Homo sapiens: one gene and its partner. The protein of the gene in region 1 purifies or fractionates together with the protein of each later gene. This does not show direct contact. Each region holds a gene or a part of one and is shown on either strand. Other genes may lie near its edges.

Evidence for each region.
Region 2: the proteins of OR1E1 (region 1) and CCNYL1 purify together in Homo sapiens (affinity purification with mass spectrometry; one large-scale study listed by BioGRID and IntAct). This does not show direct contact.

What each region holds. Positions count from the first base shown.
Region 1 is NC_000017.11:3,396,376-3,399,830, reverse strand, and holds OR1E1 (olfactory receptor 1E1), read left to right. Parts: upstream 1-1,420; coding exon 1,421-2,365; 3' UTR 2,366-2,727; downstream 2,728-3,455. UniProt on the Homo sapiens protein: Odorant receptor.
Region 2 is NC_000002.12:207,735,335-207,739,160, forward strand, and holds part of CCNYL1 (cyclin-Y-like protein 1), read left to right. Parts: intron 1-2,076; coding exon 2,077-2,112; intron 2,113-3,826. UniProt on the Homo sapiens protein: Key regulator of Wnt signaling implicated in various biological processes including male fertility, embryonic neurogenesis and cortex development. Activates the cyclin-dependent kinase CDK16, and promotes sperm maturation.

The DNA of each region.
Region 1 (3,455 bases):
ATGATCAGATTTTCATCTCAGAATGCCACAGTGTAAATGAAGATTGTTGGAAGAGAAGGTTGTTGAAACACAGGGGCAGGAAGATGAATTGAGAAGCAGTTTCAATAGTCCAGGTAATACAAGATTTCCACCTGGTTTAGGGTTGTGGTAGTTGGGATAAGGAGTGGATGAATTAGAAAGAGAATGAAGTGCAGAATCTGTAGGACTTGCTAGATTGGATATTGACTGTGAGAGAAATGAATTAATGAAATCAAACCTTAGGTTTCTGACTTGAGCCTGGATTCCATTCACCAAACATGAGAGAGTGGAGGAGGATGGAGTTAGAAGAGGAGCAGGGTGAGATCAGAATGTCATTTAGGATCTGTCAAGCCAAAGATGCCTGTGATCCATCCAAGAGATGTTAATCATTGAGACTCAGGATACTAAGTTCTGTATACTAGAGAACGCTACACCTGAACACCTGAGTTGTTTGTTTGTTTCTTTCTTTCTTTCTCTTTCTTTCTTTCTTTCTTTCTTTCTTTCTTTCTTTCTTTCTTTCTCTTTCTTTCTTTCTTTCTTCCTTTCCTTTCCTTCCTTCCTTCCTTCCTTCCTTCCTTCCTTCCTTCCTTCCTTCCTTCCTTCTTTCTTTCTTTCTTTCTTTCTTTCTTTCTTTCTTTCTTTCTTTCTTTTCTTTCTTTGACAGAGTCTTACTCTGTCACCCAGGTTGGAGTACAATGGCACAAACTTGGCTCACTGCAGCCTCTGCCTCCCAGGTTCAAGCAATTCTCCTGCCTCAGCCTCCTGAGTAGCTGAATTACAGGCACCCGCCACCACACCAGGCTAATTTTTGTATTTTTAGTAGAGACAAGGTTTCACCATGTTGGCCAGGCCGGTCTCAAACTCCTAGCCTCAGGTGATCCACCCACCTCAGCCTCCCAAAATGTTGGAATTACAGGTGTGAGCTACTGCGCCCAGCCTACACCTGAGTTTTAAATGGCAATTAAAGCCATTGGAGTAGATGTGTTTTTATTGGCCATTATGCAGAATTATAAAAAAAAAATGAAGTTTAGAAAAATCCCTGAGGAATATCAACATGTAAGATACTGACAGAGGAGGAGCCAACTGCAGTTACTGGTGAGGCAGGTAAGAGAGAAACCAACACACTTTATGTTTCAGAAGTAAATAGATGAGTATTTTAGAAAGGATGGAATATTGTTACATGTTAAAGATAAATGAAGAGAAAAAAGATAAAGTTAAGTCATTTCTGATTATAGAGATTCTAATTATAGATATTTGTGGTATAGAGATGATTATTATAATGTCAGTTAAATAATTTTCGCAGAACACTCAGCAGACCAAGTGTCACAGAAATATCTCCATTTTAAAATTCAGATTTTAAAGGATACTGTTGTTTTTCCATTAAAGATACTGGAGACAGAGCATGATGGGACAAAATCAAACCAGCATCTCAGACTTCCTGCTCCTGGGCCTGCCCATCCAACCAGAGCAGCAAAACCTGTGCTATGCCCTGTTCTTGGCCATGTATCTTACCACCCTCCTGGGGAACCTCCTCATCATTGTCCTCATTCGACTGGACTCCCATCTCCACACGCCTATGTATTTGTTTCTCAGCAACTTGTCCTTCTCTGACCTCTGCTTCTCTTCCGTGACCATTCCCAAGTTGTTACAGAACATGCAGAACCAGGACCCATCCATCCCCTATGCGGACTGCCTGACCCAAATGTACTTCTTCCTGTTATTTGGAGACCTGGAGAGCTTCCTCCTTGTGGCCATGGCCTATGACCGCTATGTGGCCATCTGCTTCCCCCTGCACTACACCGCCATCATGAGCCCCATGCTCTGTCTCGCCCTGGTGGCGCTGTCCTGGGTGCTGACCACCTTCCATGCCATGTTACACACTTTACTCATGGCCAGGTTGTGTTTTTGTGCAGACAATGTGATCCCCCACTTTTTCTGTGATATGTCTGCTCTGCTGAAGCTGGCCTTCTCTGACACTCGAGTTAATGAATGGGTGATATTTATCATGGGAGGGCTCATTCTTGTCATCCCATTCCTACTCATCCTTGGGTCCTATGCAAGAATTGTCTCCTCCATCCTCAAGGTCCCTTCTTCTAAGGGTATCTGCAAGGCCTTCTCTACTTGTGGCTCCCACCTGTCTGTGGTGTCACTGTTCTATGGAACCGTTATTGGTCTCTACTTATGCTCATCAGCTAATAGTTCTACTCTAAAGGACACTGTCATGGCTATGATGTACACTGTGGTGACCCCCATGCTGAACCCCTTCATCTACAGCCTGAGGAACAGAGACATGAAGGGAGCCCTGAGCAGAGTCATTCATCAGAAGAAAACTTTCTTCTCTCTCTGATGATAACACTTGGAGCTATTACATAGTTTATCCAGTAAAATATTGATATTAATATTGGAATATTATTCTAAATTATTTCCTCACCATCCTTTTGTTGAAATGGCATCGTACATAATTTTTCAATATGTAGTGGAGATGAAGCATAGCTGAGTAGTTGAACTAGGGAAGAGGGTCTTGGTGACCTGGCTAAGACTTCCTGTTTGTCTTCCCAAGGTGATCTTGGAAAAATGTAGTTTAAGAACAACTGTTTTAAATGGTCTTCATGCCCCACATTCTTAAATTATCACAGGATTTTGTTATGTTACTCAGAATTTTGCTTTGATTGTAGAATCATTTTTGTTTAATTAAAAAAATTTTTAAATTTTTTGTTTATTTTTATTTTCTATTTCGCACAGGGTCTCACTCTGTTGCCCAGGCTGGAGTGCAGTGGCACAATCGTGGCTCACTGTAACCTCAACCTTCTGGACTCAAGGGATTCTCCTGCCTCAGCCTCCCAAGTAGCTAGGACTACAGGCATGCACCACTACGCCCAGCTAATTTTAAGATTTTTTTGTAGAGATGAGGTCTCCCTAAGTTTCTCAGGCTGGTCTTGAATTCCTGGCCTCAAGTGATCCTCCCACCTTGGACTTTCAAAGTGCTGGGATTACAGGTGTGAGGCACCATGCCTGGCTTGTGGAATCATTTTATTTTTATTTATTTATTTATTTATTTATGAGACTGAGTCTTGCTCTGTCACCCAGGCTGGAGTGCAATGGCATGATCTTGGCTCACTGCAACCCCCGCCTCCTGGGTTCAAGCAATTCTCCTGCCTCAGCCTCCCGAGTAGCTGGGATTACAGGCAAATGCCACCACGTCGGGCTAATTTTTATATTTTTAGAGATGGGGTTTCACCATGTTGGCCAGGCAGGTCTTGAACTCCTGACCTTGTGATCCGCTCACCTAGGCCTTCCAAAGTGCATGGATAGAATCATTTCTAAATAGTGCTCTATAATCTTAGGTTAGTGCTAAATAAGATCTAAACAGCTTAACCTCCCAGCCGCCCTTTGAGTGTCTCCTACATATTCTCCCTGCACAAATTTTCACACCATTT
Region 2 (3,826 bases), on another chromosome or scaffold:
TGAGCCATATCAGAATCACTTACGCAACTTTTTTCAAAATATATGTCCACAAACAAATTCATCTCACCTCCACCTTCCCTTGATCTCTAGGCAGTCACAAGCCTTTTAGGAAAATGGAGAAGGCATGTGAGGCATAATTACACAGACAAGCACATCCCAGATGATTCTGGTCTTAACCCTAACTCAGTCATTCCCAAAATTTGCAGCACATTGGAATCATCACCAGGGGAACTTTAAAAACAACCCTCAGGCTGGGCGTGGTGACTGACACCTGTAATCCTAGCACTTTGGGAGGCCAAGGCGGGTAGATTGCCTGAGCTCAGGAGTTTGAGACCAGCCTGGGCAACACGGTGAAACCCCATTTCTAGTAAAATACAAAAAAATTAGCCAAGCGTGGTGGCGTGCACCTGTAATCCCAGCTACTTGGGAGGCTGAGACAGAATAGCTTGAATCCGGGAAGCGGAGGTTGCAGTGAGCCGAGATTGTGCCATTTTACTCCAGCCTGGGCGACAGAGCAAGACTCTGTCTCAAAAAAAAAACAAAACAAAACACACAAAAAGACAACAAAAAACACTCCTCATGCCCCAAGTCATACCCGATGCCAATTAAATCAGAATGTCTCAAGTTGGAAGTTAGGCAGTTTTTAAAGCTCCTCAGGTGATTGCAGTGTGCAGAAAGTTTGAGAACCACTGCTTAATTGAATGTAGGAGGATGAACTGCTTCTATTTGGTGGGACCTTGGGCAAGTCAGTTTTAAGCCTTGGTTCCCATATCTGTAAACTGGGTGTTGGATTAAATGTCATGTAAGGTTCCGTGGTCCTTTTCAGCATATAACTTCAAATTCTGTAATGTTAAAATCAATTTGGACATGAAAATGTTTGAAGCACTATAGAAGTATCCATCTTAGATGCTAATGTTACAGACTTTTTAAAAAAGTGCTAACATTGTATGGACTTAAAATTCAGATTTGCCTTCCCTCAATTATTTTGAGCCTCAGTTTAGAGACTGAGGGCAAATGGAAGCATATAACTTACCTAAGACAACTCCTTGTTTCCTGATACACAACATCTGTGGGTAATTTAGGAATACAGTAACATATATCTGAAAAGTCGTGTCTGTTCACTAATATTTTACTTAAACCAATGTGGAAATACTTGCCATTAATATTACACTTTGTAGTTTTATGCTGCATTGTTAGCACTGCTTATTTCAGGATAGCTACACCTATCATTGGTTTTGTGTGCACTTATTTACTAATAAATTTTCTACTAATGATGCAAAATTGATCATAAATGATTTTATTTGGTATAAAACACTTTTATTTACTTTAAGGGGAAATAATGAAAGATGGGTGGGTAGGTGATAGTTAATTAAATCAACTGAAATGCAGAGCCTAACAGCTTAAAAAGCAAAAAATAAAAATAACCAAAAAACCAAATAGTTTAAATTTAAGCATGTATACAAATAGGTAGAACTTGTATAAAATGAAAGGTTCTATGGGCAGAAGAGCAAATGGGGATATATGTAATTATTTATATATTATAATAGTCCACAGAAACATGTATTTTAACAGCATATTACTGGGTTTTTTTTTTTTTTTGAGACGGAGTCTCGCTCTGTCGCCCAGGCTGGAGTGCAGTGGCACGATCTCGGCTCACTGCAAGCTCTGCCTCCCGGGTTCACGCCATTCTCTTGCCTCAGCCTCCTGAGTAGCTGGGAATACAGGCGCCTGCTACCACGCCCGGCTAATTTTTTGTATTTTTAGTAGAGACGGGGTTTCACCGTGTTAGCCAGGATGGTCTCGATCTCCTGACCTCGTGATCCACCTGCCTCGGCCTCCCAAAGTGCTGGGATTACAGGCGTGAGCCACTGCGCCCGGCCTTACTTAGCATTTTGGTTCGTGTATTTTTGCTGAAAGGAACTAAAACAAGGGGAAAGTACCCATATGGTACTGTTCTGAACTAGAGGATTTCAGGGCCGCTAGGAGGGTTCCTCCCTTCCCTCATTTAAAAAATGTCTTCAGGCCTAACAAATGTTTAAATCAGTTGTTAAAAATAATTTTTTTTTCCCTTCACAGTGTGACCTTAGCAATATATTACCACATAAAGAACAGGTGAGCTCCTTTAAAACCTGTCTTGTTATTCCAGCTAATTACTTTGCATGATATCAAGTTCAGTATTAGGTCATAACTATAGACATCATAAGCTATAGATTGCTATTACAGTATTGAACTGAATCATTTGTGGTTTTTCTGGTCCCCAAGATGGTTTCAATTATTAAATTACTGAGGATCCCAAAGAGTATTTGTTTATGTTGGTTATATTGATATTTATTGCATTAGAAATTGAAGTTGAGAATTTAAAAAAAAAAACCCTATATTTAGTTTCAGTTTCTCAACGTTGGCACTGTTGATATTTTGAGCTACATAAGTCTTTGTTGTGGGGACTGTCCTGTGTATTGTAGGATATTTAACAGCTGTCCCAGGTTGTGACAACAAAAATATAACCCCTGACTGAGAATCATATTGTTAACATAAATAATATTTTTTCATGAAAAATAACTCTCTTCTACAACAACGAAGTTGAGTAAAATGTGTCATGTATTTATATATATACAACTCTCTAGTGTCCAGCTTAACAGAAAACAGCTGGATTCTCATCTCTGTCTTTGCAATTAGTTTTTTTTTTTAATTTCAACTTTTATTTTAGATACAGTGAGTACATGTGTAGGTGTATTACGTGGCTAATAGTGCACCCTGGTAGTGAGCTGTAATTTGTTTTGAAGAAGTGATAAGAAGATGACCTAGCCTCACGCAAATATATAGTTGGTAAAAGGTATATTTTTAAAGCTTTCAGATGGTTGTGGGTATTCTTTATTTTTTAGTTTATTTTTATTTGGTTTTTTTTGAGACGGAGTCTTGTCTGTTGCCCAGGCTGGAGTGCAGTGGCACGATCTCGGCTCACTGCAACCTCCACTTCCCAAGTTCAAGCGATTCTCCTGCCTCGGGCTCCCGAGTAGGTGGGGTTACAGGCGCATGCCACCACGCCTGGCTAATTTTTGTATTTTTAGTAGAGATGGAGTTTTGCCATGTTGACCAGGCTGGTCTTGAACTCCCGACCTCAGGTGATCCACCCGCCTCAGCCTCCCAAAGTGCTGGGATTACAGGCATGAGCCACCATACCCGGCCAGTATTCTTTAATACTACCCAACACTCCACAAGTGCTAGTTTCTTAAAATGGTTACAGTGGAATTTTGTGTTATCAATGAATTTTTTATTAGTACTCACCCATCTGTCTTGTACAATATATGTATCATTTCCCCTTACTTGGTTTTCTAATATTATGCATTGGTTATATGGAAAATATTGGTTCACATCTCTTCTTTCTTTTTTTTTTCTTTTTTTTGAGACAGAGTCTCATTCCATCACCCAGGCTGGAGTGCAGTGGTGCAGTCTCAGCTCACTGCAACCTCCGCCTCCCGGGTTCAAGCGATTCTCCTGTCTCAACCTCCCAAGTAGCTGAGATTACAAATACATACCACCATACCAGCTAATTTTTTGTATTTTTAGTAGAGACAGTGTTTCACCATGTTGCCCAGGCTGGTCTTGAATTCCTGAGCTCAAGCAATCCGCACACCTCAGCCTCCCAAAGTGCTAGGATTACAGGCGTGAGCCACCATACCCAGCCTGGTTCACATTTCTTGACAGTGGCAAAGCTCACTTTTGTTAGTATCACCACCAATTGTATTAAAAAATCTTTAAGTATTGAGAAGCTGTTAAACTCACATAATAAGGTACAAGTTTCTCCAAATCCTGATTTTTAGTTTGA